Linked DNA regions of Homo sapiens. The protein of the gene in region 4 interacts with the protein of the main gene of each other region in a biochemical or structural test. Each region holds a gene or a part of one and is shown on either strand. Other genes may lie near its edges.

What was found.
Region 1: the proteins of LIMS1 (region 4) and FERMT2 form a complex in vitro, tested with the Homo sapiens proteins (one study listed by BioGRID).
Region 2: the proteins of LIMS1 (region 4) and FERMT3 form a complex in vitro, tested with the Homo sapiens proteins (one study listed by BioGRID).
Region 3: the proteins of LIMS1 (region 4) and DAPK1 form a complex in vitro, tested with the Homo sapiens proteins (one large-scale study listed by BioGRID and IntAct).

What each region holds. Positions count from the first base shown.
Region 1 is NC_000014.9:52,857,051-52,860,550, forward strand, and holds the end of FERMT2 (fermitin family homolog 2), read right to left. Parts: intron 3,416-3,500; coding exon 3,291-3,415; intron 2,665-3,290; coding exon 2,523-2,664; coding exon of another isoform or gene 2,511-2,522; exon of another isoform or gene 2,256-2,510; intron 1,501-2,255; coding exon 1,327-1,500; 3' UTR 223-1,326; downstream 1-222. UniProt on the Homo sapiens protein: Scaffolding protein that enhances integrin activation mediated by TLN1 and/or TLN2, but activates integrins only weakly by itself. Binds to membranes enriched in phosphoinositides.
Region 2 is NC_000011.10:64,216,721-64,220,220, reverse strand, and holds part of FERMT3 (fermitin family homolog 3 short isoform), read right to left. Parts: intron 971-3,500; coding exon 863-970; intron 698-862; coding exon 563-697; intron 482-562; coding exon 432-481; intron 343-431; coding exon of another isoform or gene 331-342; coding exon 206-330; intron 2-205; coding exon 1-1. UniProt on the Homo sapiens protein: Plays a central role in cell adhesion in hematopoietic cells. Acts by activating the integrin beta-1-3 (ITGB1, ITGB2 and ITGB3). Required for integrin-mediated platelet adhesion and leukocyte adhesion to endothelial cells.
Region 3 is NC_000009.12:87,504,367-87,507,866, forward strand, and holds part of DAPK1 (death-associated protein kinase 1), read left to right. Parts: intron 1-3,500. UniProt on the Homo sapiens protein: Calcium/calmodulin-dependent serine/threonine kinase involved in multiple cellular signaling pathways that trigger cell survival, apoptosis, and autophagy.
Region 4 is NC_000002.12:108,540,970-108,544,469, reverse strand, and holds part of LIMS1 (LIM and senescent cell antigen-like-containing domain protein 1), read right to left. Parts: intron 1-3,500. UniProt on the Homo sapiens protein: Within the IPP (ILK-PINCH-PARVIN) complex, binds to F-actin, promoting F-actin bundling, a process required to generate force for actin cytoskeleton reorganization and subsequent dynamic cell adhesion events such as cell spreading and migration.

The DNA.
Region 1 (3,500 bases), on a different chromosome or scaffold from region 4:
TAGATATTACACATTCATTTTTAAGTATTAAGAAAATGAGGGCTTTTCAATTGAGGTGAAAGACTATCTTTGAGATAAAGTATCTCTATCTGGCAACGCTGTGGAATACTAACCAGTTGTTCTCACAAAATAACATGCAGGCAAAGCAATTCCAAAAGGCAGAAGTTCATTTCTACTAAATTAATACTATGTAAACATTAAAAACAAGTACAAAAATAAATATTAAATAAAAGTTTTGCTTTTATTTAAAATAAAATGCATTTATACAGTCTTTGAACCATGGATTATTGAACAATACTGGTAATCCACCTCTCCCTCGCACCCTTTTGGGCTATGTGAGCTAGGAATTTTCTGACTAGCACCAATACAGATTGTAACAGCGCAACAGACTAGAACATGGCCAGTCCAGGCATTAGAGTTAAGGACATTGTGGCAAATCATGATCATAATGAAGTCATTCTTAATTTAGTAGATATTAAAACTGCACGTTAATTATATCTCTTAAAGGCATTTAATTAACGCAGAGATTGCTACATTTAAGCCATCTGCTAGTTGTGAGTAGTTTTTAAAAAACTGTACAATTTTATAAAATTTGTGTTTTTACATTAGTTACACAAAATGCATACTTCATAGAACTTTACTTCATATTGTAATGCAAAGAGTTGCATATTTTAGGCAGACAGTGATTATGCTGGTGAATACTAAAAGTGTAATACAATATGGTGTAAAAATAAAAACACGAGACAATATACATAACATGCTTATTCAAGGACAAAAACAAATCAAGCACGACGGACTAATAGCATTTTCCTTCAAGGTCAAACACAATGACATTACTAAATATCAGGCCTCCTGCATGCCTGATTTATTTGGGGGTAGGGGGAGGAATTAAATGGCTACCAGAAGTAGGATATTTTAAAACATGATATCAAATTAAACATACATTAAATCACATGCATTAGACATGATAAATAGAGTTCATATAGGTTAAGCCCTGGATAGCTTTAAAATAGATGGCTTGTTTCTTACAGTTTGGCTAGCTTAAATCAGTAAATCAGTGATGGTTTGTTCCTGATTTGCCCACTATTTCAGTTTTCAATTCATGGCCCTAAGGAATGTGTGACAAATTCAAGTTTATTATATCATAACATGATAGATTAATAGTCGTGCTTGTTTAGTGCACATATTAACTGGTCTGGTAAGGCAAAGAAGTTTTCATGATAAAATGATAAATTTCAAGCTTACTTTATTAAGCAGCATATAACAAACAGCTTTTAAAGTTAAATATTGTTATGGCCGTGGAGTTTCATTAAACAGTATTCCTATTCACACCCAACCACTGGTAAGTTTGTAGAACATCTCTTCATCTAAACTCTCGTTTTGGTCTTTTGCACGTGTTGAGAGAAATATGTAGCCACCAATGAATTCATGAACCACTTTGCAATCTACTTCAGTACAAATGAAGGACAATCGTACTTCATCTGCAAACTCTACGGTGACCTGGAACAAAGACAAGAGCCATCAGTGCTGTCCCAAATGCTAGGTGGCTGGGTCCACACAAAACTACTGTGCTACTTAAAGTCTGTCATATCACAAAACACTTGTTGATCCTCAAATGATCAGTCTGTCTAAAACCTAAACGAATAATGCCTTTAAGTCCCAAAGAAGAAGCTAAGTTTATTGCCCTTCCCCTACACTTTAAGTTTTCATGTTCTGAAAAGGAAGACTAGGAATGCAAGGGTTTTAGGTCGTTCAGTTCTCAAATGGTCTCTGGTGATTGATTCAATTAATGAGAATGCCTCTCTTCAAGTCGTGCAGGAAAGCCTACTTCCTGTGTTTTAACGTTCGCTTCAGATACTTAAATTTTAGGTATCACGTTTGAGTATTTCAGAAATATAAGATTCTTTGAAGTAATAGGAATTGATACAATAAATCCAATATGATGCTAAACCAAATGACTTATTAGTAAAAGATGGTTCATTTTAAATGATACTCGTATACTCCAAGACTGGGGGCAACATGATGTACAGTGGTAAATGTGCCAGGTTTTTAAGCCTAAAGCATCTGAGTTTGAAATGATTCTGTAGTTACTTTGTGCGTGGTCATAGACAATGATGGCCCTCAGGTCTCTCTATTGCAGTGTCTTCATTTGTCCAACTGCCTTAAAAGGCTGTGATGAGGTTTAGAGACAGGGTACTAATGTAAGCCTCTAAGTATCATGTCTGGCACAGGGTAGGCATTCAACAAACAGTAGCTGCTATTTCAGAGTAGATCGGCTTTATCCATTACAGAAAGACAAAAAAGGCAACATTCTAAGCAAATTATGCACTTAGAATTTTAGTAACTGGGCTAATTATGAAATAGGCAAATTTAAGTGAGAAATGAATAGTCAACCATGGTCTGTCTGTACTTTAAGAGGTGGTGGTACAAATAATCATCAGAATTTATAGGCCTTTTTATTCTTAATGTACTAATTTGTATCAGAGAAGGACTATATTCAAGTAACATTGTTATGAGTTTACCATTTTGATTTCCCAGTTGACATTCCACTGTTTCATGTTGCTGAAACGCCATGTTTTAATTGCATCTCCAGTGCTGGCATCCATCCGAATCAGTCTGTTGTATGCAATTCCAATAAGTTCTTCTTTTTTGCCCCCTTGGAACCTATAACATTTAAGAAAAGAACGGTTAAAAACATGTTGTGGGGGAACATGTTGGACTGCTTTTCTTCAAGATAAGTGTTCTCTCTAACCCTAAAAGAGTACTATTCTTTTTTTTTTTTTTTGAGACGGAGTCTTGCTCTGTTGCCCAGGCTGGAGTGCAGTGGCGCGATCTCAGCTCACTGCAAGCTCCGCCTCCTGGGTTCACGCCATTCTCCTGCCTCAGCCTCCCGAGTAGCTGGGACTACAGGCGCCCACCACCATGCCCCACTAATTTTTTGTATTTTTAGTAGAGACAGGGTTTCACCGTGTTAGCCAGGATGGTCTCTATCTCCTGACCTCGTGATCCACCCACCTCGGCCTCCCACAGTGCTGCGATTACAGGCGTGAGCCACCGTGCCTGGCCAAGAGTGCTATTCTCTTAGTAGTAAAACAAACACAATTATCTTGAATTTTTAATGTAGAAATTAAAAGCTTACAAAATACATTCTAACAGTCTTTGAATTCTATTGTAATATGAGTTAATGGGTCTACATAGGTATGCTTTAGATGTTTAATATCTAATTACATGAGGTAGATTAAGCAAAAATGCAGATTAAGGTTTACACATAGATGCTTAGAACCACTGACCTTGCAATGAAGTGAGTGATGCCAAATTCAGGTAGTGACTGCCAAGCTTGAATAAATCTCATCTTGGCTTCAATTAGACTCATCTGAGCTACATTCTGATGGGCCTCCAAGATTCTCGCTGTTATCTAAACATGAGTAAACATCACCTTTACCATTGAACATTATTCTCTCATGGGAGAACTGAGACAAAAGATCAAAAGATTGAATTAC
Region 2 (3,500 bases), on a different chromosome or scaffold from region 4:
CCTGGAGGGAGAGAAGGGGTGGTCTAGGAGGTCGGGAGGGGAAGAGCCGCCTGAGGTCCTGGAGTGCATCCTAGCCCACACCGTCACCTCAGGACAGAGGGCATCTTCCCCGGTCTCCAGGAGGAAACAGGGCCGGTGAGAGCATTCACCTGCCTAGCCCACAAGTGGGGATCCCCCCACCCAGCCCCTGGCCCTGTGCACTTACCCTTGAGGTTGAGCTGCTGAATGGGGTCCCCAGGGGCCTCGTCCTGGCTCTTGTAGTAGGACAGTGTGGTCTCCTTGAACACCACCCAGTGTTGGCGGTAGCCCTTCAGGGTCAGCTTCCGGGGCCTTCGTGGGATGCTGGGGTTTGTGAAAGGCCGCCTCACCCCCTCCCTCCATATGCAGACCAACCCCTCCAGCAGGGCTGCCTACTCTGGCCCCCAACTCACCGAAAGATTCGGAGATGGTCCTTGAGCTCTGGGATGGTGGTGAGGCTGTCCTATGGGAGGACCAGAGTCAGAGGGGCACCCGGTACCTCACAGTTCTCCCTGCCCAGCCCCTGCCCTGAGCCCCTCCTCACCAGCACATCTGTGGGCGCCGACCCCTCCAGCTTCACCTCCAGGTTGCTCAGGGCCACATCCAGGTCGTCCAGCCCTGGGTCTGTGCCAGCCGGCTCCCCCACCTCCCCGCTCTGGGACAGCTTGTTGATGTGGTACTAGGTGGTCATGAAGCCAGGGAGGGCTGAGTCCAGCAGCCTGGTCCCCTAGCAGTACCCCCAGGCCGGGCTTCCCTGGAGGTAGCCCCCACTCAGGAAGGCCCTTCCTGCCCTGGGACTGGCTCACCTCCCACCTGCCCTGGTGCCCCCAGGCCCGCCTGGTACCTGCAGGGCGGCAAACACCATCATCTCCTCCTCGGTGCAGTCAATCTCCTCCAGCAGCAGGTCCCACCGGGCCTGCTCATACAGCTGTGTCAGCCGCACGGGGTCTGTCTGGAGCGGGGGGAGAGGAGGCTGGAGGCTGGGCTGGTCAGATGCCAGCTGCCCTGGACGCCCTGCACTGAGCCCCTGCCAGCCTTGGCCCTCTGCCCTGCCCTCCTTGCTGAGGCAGATTCATTCAGTGGCCAGACATGGGCCACAGACCTCAACCCCATCCTTAATAGCCTGCTAGCCCCCTGCTGCCCAGGCCTGCACGTCTAAACCTTGGCTTGGTTGTGCTGATGTTTACTGTGTGCTGGCATGCTGCCCTGGGTGCAGGAGAGACCGAGTAAACCAATCAATAAGTCAAATAATCCAAGGCTGCAATAAACACTATCAAGGAAACAGTTTCCACAGGGAAGCTCACATGAGCCCTCAGTCTAAGGCCCCCCCAAGTTCAATGGAGATGACAGAATGGAACATGGGGAAGCAGTCAGGGAAGGCTTCCCTGAGGAGGTGACAAGCTGAGTAGAGATAGGAAGGATGACAGTGGGCCACTCAAGGGAAGCGTGAAGGAAGAGGATTCCAGAGAAAAGGAACTGGGAAGGCAGAGACTCCAAGAGGGGATCCCAGTTACCCACAGAAGACCAACAATCCCGCTGAAACTCACCCAAAATTGATAGCAAAGGTTTAGGAAGATAAACCCAAAAGGACAAAGGACAGGCCGGGGCGGTGGCTTGCGCCTGTAATCCCAGCACTTTGGGAGGCCAAGGCAGGCAGATAGCTTGAGCCCAGGAGTTTCAGACCAGCTTGGGCAACATGGTGAAACCCTATCTCTACTAAAAATACAAAAAATTAGCCACATGAGGTGGTGCGTGCCTGTAGTCCCAGGTACTCAGGATGCTGAGGTGGGAGAATCACCTGAACCCATGAGGTTGAGGGTGCAGTGAGCTGTAATTGCACCATTGCACTCCAGCTTGGGGGATAGAGTGAGACCTTGTCTCCAAAAGAAAGAAAAAGAAGGCCAGGCGCAGTGGCTCACGCCTGTAATCCCAGCACTTTGGGAGGCCGAGGTCGGTGGATCACGAGGTCAGGAGATCAAGACCATCCTGGCTAACACAGTGAAACCCTGTCTCTACTAATAATACAAAAAAATTAGCCAGGCGTGGTGGCGGGCGCCTGTAATCCCAGCTACTCAGGACGCTGAGGCAGGAGAACGGCGTGAACCCGGGAGGCGGAGCTTGCAGTGAGCCGAGATCGTGCCACTGCACTCCAGCCTGGGCGACAGAGCGAGACTCCGTCACAAAAAAAAAAAAAAAAAAAAAGGAAAAAGGAAATAATTTGGAAGATGGAGAGCAAACTGTAGATGGGAACTGGGTTATGCAGAGAGCGCTAGGGCCTCACGCCTTGTCCCTCTCCTGTCTGGTAAATCCACCAATGAGACTTGAAAATAGGCGGAAAGCAATCAGCAAAAAGAACAGAGATCTCAACAGAGGCATCCAGTTTGCATGGCGGACCCCTGGCAGGCTCTGATGGGGATCCTCTGGATGAGATGCGAGGGTGAGCTGAAGAGAGGACTCTGGATAAAGTCCAAGAAAAAAAGCAGGTCCCTCCCCAGCTCCATGCAGCCAAGTGATGGCAAGGAGACACCTGGCAGAAGCTGGGACTCACTCTCTGGAGATGCTGAGCCAGATGCACCCCTGCATTTGGTACCCCAGACACAGCTGGACGGGGTGGGGGTTGCACTAGGGTGAAAACAGACAATTTTTTTTTTTTAAGATGGAGTTTTGCTCTTGTTGCCCAGGCTGGAGTACAATGGCACGATCTTGGCTCACCGCAACCTCCGCCTCCCGGGTTCAAGCGATTCTCCTGCCTCAGCCTCCTGAGTAGCTGGGATTACAGGCATGCACCACCACGCCCAGCTACTTTTGTATTTTTAGTAGATACAGGCTTTCTCCATGTTGATCAGGCTGGTCTCAAATTCCTGACCTCAGGTGATCCACCTGCCTTGGCCTCCCAAAGTGCTGGGATTACAGGCGTGAGCCACCGTGCCCGGCAAAAACACAAATTTAAAGAAAGCTGGCATTCAGATGAGTGACACACCCACACCCTTTCCCACTTGTCACCCAAGACATTGGCAGGAAGCCTTCTATCTCCAGTTGAAAGATCAGTGGGGTTGCCACTGAGAGGCTGAGCCACCAGAGAAATGCCCGACAAAGAGTGGCAGCCCGGCCCCATCGCCTCCAGGGGGCCACCAAGATGCCAAGCCCTACTCACACACTCAGGGTCTCCAATTGGTTTCTTAGAGCTTCACTTTTAAATATGAATGGACAGGCATGGACTACCCACATTTAAGGAAAGCTTCAAGAGTGAACCATAGAGACCAAGACAACAAGAATAAAACAGCTTGGAGGAAATAAAGGCCAGGTAGGGCGCAGAAGAGAACTTCAAACGTGAATCAAAATCCTTGTAGAGTACAAAAATTAGCTGGGCATGGTGGCACCCGCCTTTTTTTTTTTTTTTTTTTTTTGAGATGGAGTCTCGCTCTGTCACCCAGGCTGGAGTGCAGTGGCGTGATCTCGGCTCACTGCAAGCTCCGCCTCCC
Region 3 (3,500 bases), on a different chromosome or scaffold from region 4:
GCAGTTTGGTTGAATGCTTGCTTGCTGGCACTGGGAGTGTGTTGCTGGATTACTAGGGCAGGCATCAAATTTAGGTTCAAGGGGGCCAGGAACAGAGTAGGTGGAGGTGCTTATTGGTCGGGAAGCCAGGGAACATGGAAGCTCACTTCTTGGTCCCCCATGCTCTTTTACCCTCAGCTTGTGTCTCCCCGGCCAATGAGGAAACTGAAGGCCCCATATCATTGGTATATGCCTCTGCAAAGCCATGAAAAACTCATAAGAAACCTACAGAGATGGATGTCCAGATAAATTCCAGTGCACTCATCCCTCGGTATCCATGGCGGATTAGTTCCAGGACCTCTGGGGACACCAGAATCCACAAATGCTGAAGTCCCTTATATAAAATGGCATAGTATTTGCATATAACTGATGTAATCTTCCCATATATCTTAAATCATCTCTAGATTACTTACAATACTTAGTACAATGTAAATGCTAACTAAATAGTAGCATTATAATGTTTAGGGAATAATAACCAGAAAAAAAAGTCTGTATATGTTCAGTACAGATGCAGTTTTTTCCTGAATATTTTTGGTACAAGGTTGGTTGAATCCATGGATGCAGAACCCACAGATCCAGAGGGCTGACTGTAGTTGTATACAGGTGTTATATCAGGAGAGGCAACATTGGCTCTTCCACCTTGTTCTCTTCCCTCCTAGCAGAGTTGTAATCCAGACCACTTCTTTCCAGATGATTAGGGGTGAGGGGCTGAGCTGCTGGATATCTGATATCTGGGAGTGGCATGGTCAAGGTCACATTGCCTGACTCAGCAGGGAAATGTGTTAGGAACTTTCATCCTTCATTCTAGCCAACTGCCATGAGTACCTAACATTTTGTATAAATTAAGTGAATATTATTTTAGTAGAAATTTATTTCTGATTATGAGACAAAGGAAGCCACTCTTCTGACAAGAGGGGAGTGGTTTCCATTGGGGAAGAGTACCCCAGAGAGCTCAGGGACTTTGTTTGTTTGTGTCTTTTTGTTTGTTTGATTTTGTTTTGTTTTTTTGAGACGGAGTCTCACTCTGTTGCCCAGGCTAGAGTGTAGTGGCGTGATCTCGGCTCACTGCAACCTCCGCCCTCTGGGTTCAAGTGATTCTCCTGCCTCAGCCTCCCAAGTAGCTGGGATTACAGGCGCCTGCCACCGTGCCTGGCTTATTTTTTGTATTTTTAGTAGAGACGGGGTTTCACCATCTTGGCCAGGCTGGTCTTGAACTCCTGACCTCGTGAGTCACCCTCCTCGGCCTCCCGAAGTGCTGGGATTACAGGCATGAATCACTGTGCCTGGCCTTTTGCATTTTTGGAGACGAAGTCTTGCTCTGTTGCCCAGGCTAGAGTGCAGTGGGGCGATCTTGGCTCACTGCAACCTCTGCCTCCCCAGTTCAAGTGATTCTCTGTCTCAGCCTCCAAATAGCTGGAATTATAGGCATGCATCACCATACCTGGCTAATTTTTTTATTTTTAGTAGAGGTGGGGTTTCGCCATGTTGGCTAGGCTGGTCTTGAACTCCTGACCTCAAGTGATCCGCCCGTCTCGGCCTCCCAAAGTGCTGGGATTATAAGCGTCAGCCTCTCGCTGTGCCTGGCCGGGACTTTGACCTGGAAGAAGGCTGAGTGACCAGCATTGCCTCCCTTCACATTTTATCCACCTGTGTTTAGACAGGTCAAGTGGCTTTCTCCAGGCAGCTGATTAAAAGGTGGCAAGACATGGACCCAGAACCCAGGGCCAGGCCTATTTCATTATCTGTGCTATTTAGGATTTGGCAGTTTTCCATCTTTGAAAGCCAGATGAAGTTGATATTTAAGAGAGGTGAAGTAGGCAGCCATTTGGCGCCAATTTATTTCAGCATCTGCATGGAGAAAATGGTTAGGGATAAATAGTAGACCCTTCATGGAAGGTTTTCATTTGAAGCCCAGCCAAAGGCAACAGGGTCTGCCCTTTGAGCTCAGAACTTTCGCAGGCCTTAACGACACACTGGGACCTTCTTTCCTTTTCCAAATGGCTTCAGCCTTGCAGTTTGGAATGATGTCAACATGTGGCGTAGTTTTATTCAAGTCCCAAGTTAATGGTTTACCTTTTTAGAAAACTCCAAAAACACTTTCATTGTTATTTAACTTTTGAGTTATGTAATGTCTAAGAGTCTTGTCTCTGACCCGTGCACCTACCTGCCACTGACCAACAGTTTCTCATTTCCTTACGCAACAACTAGTCTGGCTAGCTTAGAGTTGGTGTGTGATTGTTTGAGACTTTATGTGGAAGATAATATTTAATTGTTTTGTTCTGGTTTGTTGGGGTAAATTATACAAATGGAATGCATCCTTTCTCGGCCTTGAAAGAGGTTATATGACAGTACAATTATAATAAATTCAGTGTATGACTTTGGGTACATTCTATTATAAACGAATTTTTTTAAAGGTGCAGTTAGAAGAAGGTGGAAGAAAAAAGAAGTTGACACTCCGATTTTCCACATCATCTAACTAAAATGGATTTAAACTAACTTTCTCTAACTATTAAATCTTTCTTAGGTAAGTACAGTTGTATCCCAGCTCTAGAGTTAATGTGCTGGGTGGGTTTTTACAAATAAAAAATCTAAAACCTAAAATAGTTGTGTTTTATCTTCTGTCCCAATCCAAAACAAAACAAAACAATCATGTGATAGTAACTAATCTCTGGAGATACCTGACAAGCGTGGTCCAATAGTGACGCGGGTTTGTCACTTTGGTCTTTAGGTGACATTGACAGCTGGTGTGGCATATGGATCACACTGTGGTCATTGAAGTATAATGTTGCTTACTTCTGAGAAGTGATCATGGGGCCTTTTTTTTGAGACGGAATTTCGCTCTTGTTGCCCTGGCTGGAATGCAATGGCGCTATCTCGGCTCACTGCAACCTCCGCCTCCTGGGTTCAAGCGATTCTCCTGCCTCAGCCTCCCAAGTAGCTGGGATTACAGGCATGCACCACCACGCCTGGCTAATTTTGTATTTTTAGAGGATTTCTCCATGTTAGTCTGGCTGGTCTTGAACTCCTGACCTCAGGTGATCTGCTCGCCTCAGCCTCCCAAAGTGTTGGGATTACAGGCATGAGCCACCGCATCTGGTGTTCACGGGGCTTTTACCTTATGTACTACCTTTCGATGTTTCAGTTGTGAGCTTGAAAAATTTTATTCAGTAACCTAACATATAATTAGAGATGCCAGAGTGGTGGGGAGGGGAGGGAAGGAGGTTGGGAGAATGTTGTTGATTTTTTTTTTCCCTTTATAAACACATACAACTTTGGACGAAGAACATAATGTTTGAGCAAATGAATGCTTGTAAACTGCCGATCTCTGAAGTGTGAAAAGTTTATATTGATGGCACTTATATTCATAAGCCTGATGGGTTTTGGCTGGGAAATTTGGCTCGAGGTACGGACTTCTTTTGGGACACATTTTATTTTTCTGTCAAAACTGCCTGATTATTCTT
Region 4 (3,500 bases):
CACACAGAGACATATTATTCTCTGTATTTTTGTATATGTTTGAAATCCTCCATAATAAAAAATTAAAAAGCATAGATTTCATGACATACATCCCTCAAGAAGTATGGGATGAGGCTGAGCAATCAGCATTTTTAGCATGAACCCCATGCCATTAGAAGTCTGCAGCCCATGTTTTGAGAGCACTGTTCTCCCTGATTCTTGAATTTTCCCTACAACATTCCAAATAAGCCAGGCCTCTGGTTGAACCCTACGATGACCAATACACCTCTACCTGCTAAGAATCCAATAATATTTGACTGGTCCTAATGTCTTCAATAAGTAACAACTAATCTATAATAACTACTAACAAATTACCACTTCCTCCTTTAAATTTCTTTTTACTTTTTTTGAGAGAGACAGGGAAAGAGAGAAGAGAGAAAAGAGAGAGGGAGAGAAAGACAGAGAAAGAAAGAGTCTTGCTGTGTTGCCCAGGCTGGAGTGCAGTGGCAAGACTCAACCTCCCAGGCTCAAGTGATCCTCCCACCTCAGCCTCCTGAGTAGCTGGGACTCTTCCTGGACCAAACTGAGGGTTGGGCTGCTATTTCTCGTGGCCCAATAACGAGATGCAGATGAACAGGGGAGGAAGAGAGTTTTTATTTCTGCAACCAGTTACAGGGAGAAGGCCTGGAAATTATCACCAGACCAACTCAAAATTGCAGTTTTCCAGAGCTTATATACCTTCTAAGCTATATGTCTACAGGTAAGTGTGCATTCACCTGAAGACGTAAGTGATTAACTTCTTTTAATCTATAACTAAGGTCTGAGTGCTGGAGACCTTCTTCTGGATCCTCAGTAGATTTACTTCATCTAAATGGGTCCAGGTGCTGAGGTGATTACCCTTGTCTCCTACTAAATCACAGAGGTTTGGGGAGTTTTTTCAGACCCACAATAAAATTTGTTTAATCCTAAAAGGGTCCTGTTAAGAATTCTTTTGTTATTTTCTCATGCTTTAAGGCCCAGGAAAGGCCTAGGCAAAACTCTTGGTAGGTTTCTGTTACACTCCAGCCTTTGATAAGGGCACTGACTTGTTTAGCTTTTACTATTTCACTTAACCAGTCAGTCAGTATTGAAACAGTTGTTATGGAGGCCTGCATTAGTGAGACCTAGCCTGCCACAGGACTACGGGCACGTGCCACCATGCCCAGCTAATTTTAAAATTTTTTGTAGAGATGAGGTACCACTATGTTGCCCAGGCTCATCTTGAACTCCTGGGCTCAAGCGATCCTCTCACCTCAGCCTCCCAAAGTGCTGAGATTACAGGTGTGAGCCACCATGCCCAGTGAAATTTCTAAAAGACTTTTTTAAACAGTCTCTTATGGGACTTGTACACACAAAGCTACAATATTAGACAATGTGTCCTTCACTCTATTACAGCTGTATACTCCATGCCCTATAGCATAGTACAGTGTATATAATGGACACAAATTGTATTGAAAGATGTGTTCCAAAATTTGTAAATATCACTTTCACATATGCAAGCACAGCCAAGAGTTCAAATAAAAATAATGAAGTTTGTGTGTTGCACACAAATACAGACACATTAAATTTGGGTAGAGAACTGAATCTTACCCAATGCATTCTCCGGGAGGTCAAGAAAAGAAAGCCTAATAGGTGTTGAAGCAGCCAAGGAAGTCATCTTCAAGACAGAGGAGTTTAAGCTGGGACTTGAGTTGTAAGACTTGGGAACTCCTACCCCCTTAAAAAAGGAAAGGCTACTCCTAGCAGAGTAACAAAAATCAAGTTCAGAAAGAAGGACTGTGGTATGGTTGGCAATAAGATGATATAAGCGTAAGGGTAGGAGGGAGTAAAACTGGATAGGTTGTCTGGACATGCCAAGAAAAAGCCTTGAGACTTGGAAAAACAATTAGCGAGCTGTGACCTCTTCTTGACCAGTGCCATGAAGTGAGGAGACACAGGGCTCTACAGGGCACTTCGGTATGAATCCCAGCTGTCACTAATTGTATGACTTGGTGAGTTCTTAACCTCTTGAGCTTGGTTTCCTTATCTGTAAAATAGATATAAAGATCCTACTTCGTGGTGTGGCTGTGATGGTAAGATTATATAAAACAATATCCTTAAGGTATTTGTGTGGAAGTAGGTAATTAAGAGAAGGTGGTTATGACTAACCGAGTTTCCAAAACAGTGGCCTAGGAGGAAACTAAACAAGGATGCCTAAATATCATCTGAATTTCTCCTAAATGTTTCATGATGTTGGGTCTCTGCCAGCAGTCTGTAATACACTGTAGAGTCAAGCTAAACCAAAGAAAATGATCCTGTTTTACTCAAAGTTTTGTGAATTTATTCAAACAACGTCAAAGACACTAAACAGAGCTAGCCCTGAACTTTTCGATTCACTAACAACAAATAAAAGGAGAAATAAAGCCTACTGTGCAGCTTGTTTTTCTTTGGATATTTAACAAATTTGATTAAGACATTCCTTTACTTCCAGAGATTACACTTTGGCAGAAAAGCTTAGACATATATACAAAAAACTATAAAACAAAACAGAAATTGGTAATTACCAAAAAAGAATTCAAAATGCTTTGGGAAAACAGAAAAAGCTCTGAATCCCTAATTCCCTACTACACAGCGGGGGCTAAATTAATGCTCCAGGAATTCGTTATTTTATGAGAGAAGCGGCAATTTTGTTCCAGCTGCCAAGAAAACACAAAAGATGATGATTTTCCAGGCCCAGAGAAGGGCATGAACAGCACTGAGGCAGGAAATCATCATTTTCAGAAAAAGGCAGTGGGTTAGAGAGACAAAGGCTAAGGAAACAGTGTGTGACAAGGCTATGAAGATGGGTTGGGCCAGATCACAAACAGCCTTAAATTCCAGGCGCTGGAGTTTGGACCTACTTGACAGGCAATAAGCAGCTTCTCAATATTTTGAAAACATGTGACCAAAGTAGTTCTTTAGAAAAATCTGAAACCAACATGGATGACAGATCAGTCAGGTGCACCTGCACTGTACCTGCACAGAAAAACAAATCCTGTTGAATCTACTGCACTGAGAAGGAGAAACAGCTAGCTGTGGCAAAAGCTGCAACTGCCTACCCAATGTCCATTCTCCCTCCCTTCCTCACTGTATTAACAAGGCAAATTTTAAAATGGACAGCAATGTGCCCAGCTTTAAAAGTAAGCAAACAAAAACAAAACAACAGCTACATTTACCAATGAGAAATAAACATATCTGTTTAAGTAGTTGGTAACATTTGTCACTCAGCTGATGCATTGGTAAGGAAGCCCGTCAATAGGAAGGGATCTCTCTGGGGAGGAAAAAGTTGCAAGCACCAGCACATGTGGCTAGGAATACCAGGTCTTCAACAACACTTCTGAAGTGTTCTTCAAAAGGAATCACTTGAAAGAGACTGACATCCAGGACACCTGTAATAGAACAATTCTGGGCCAATATCCATAATTCATTCAGACATTTCCAAATGTACTATGTTAATGGGCTCA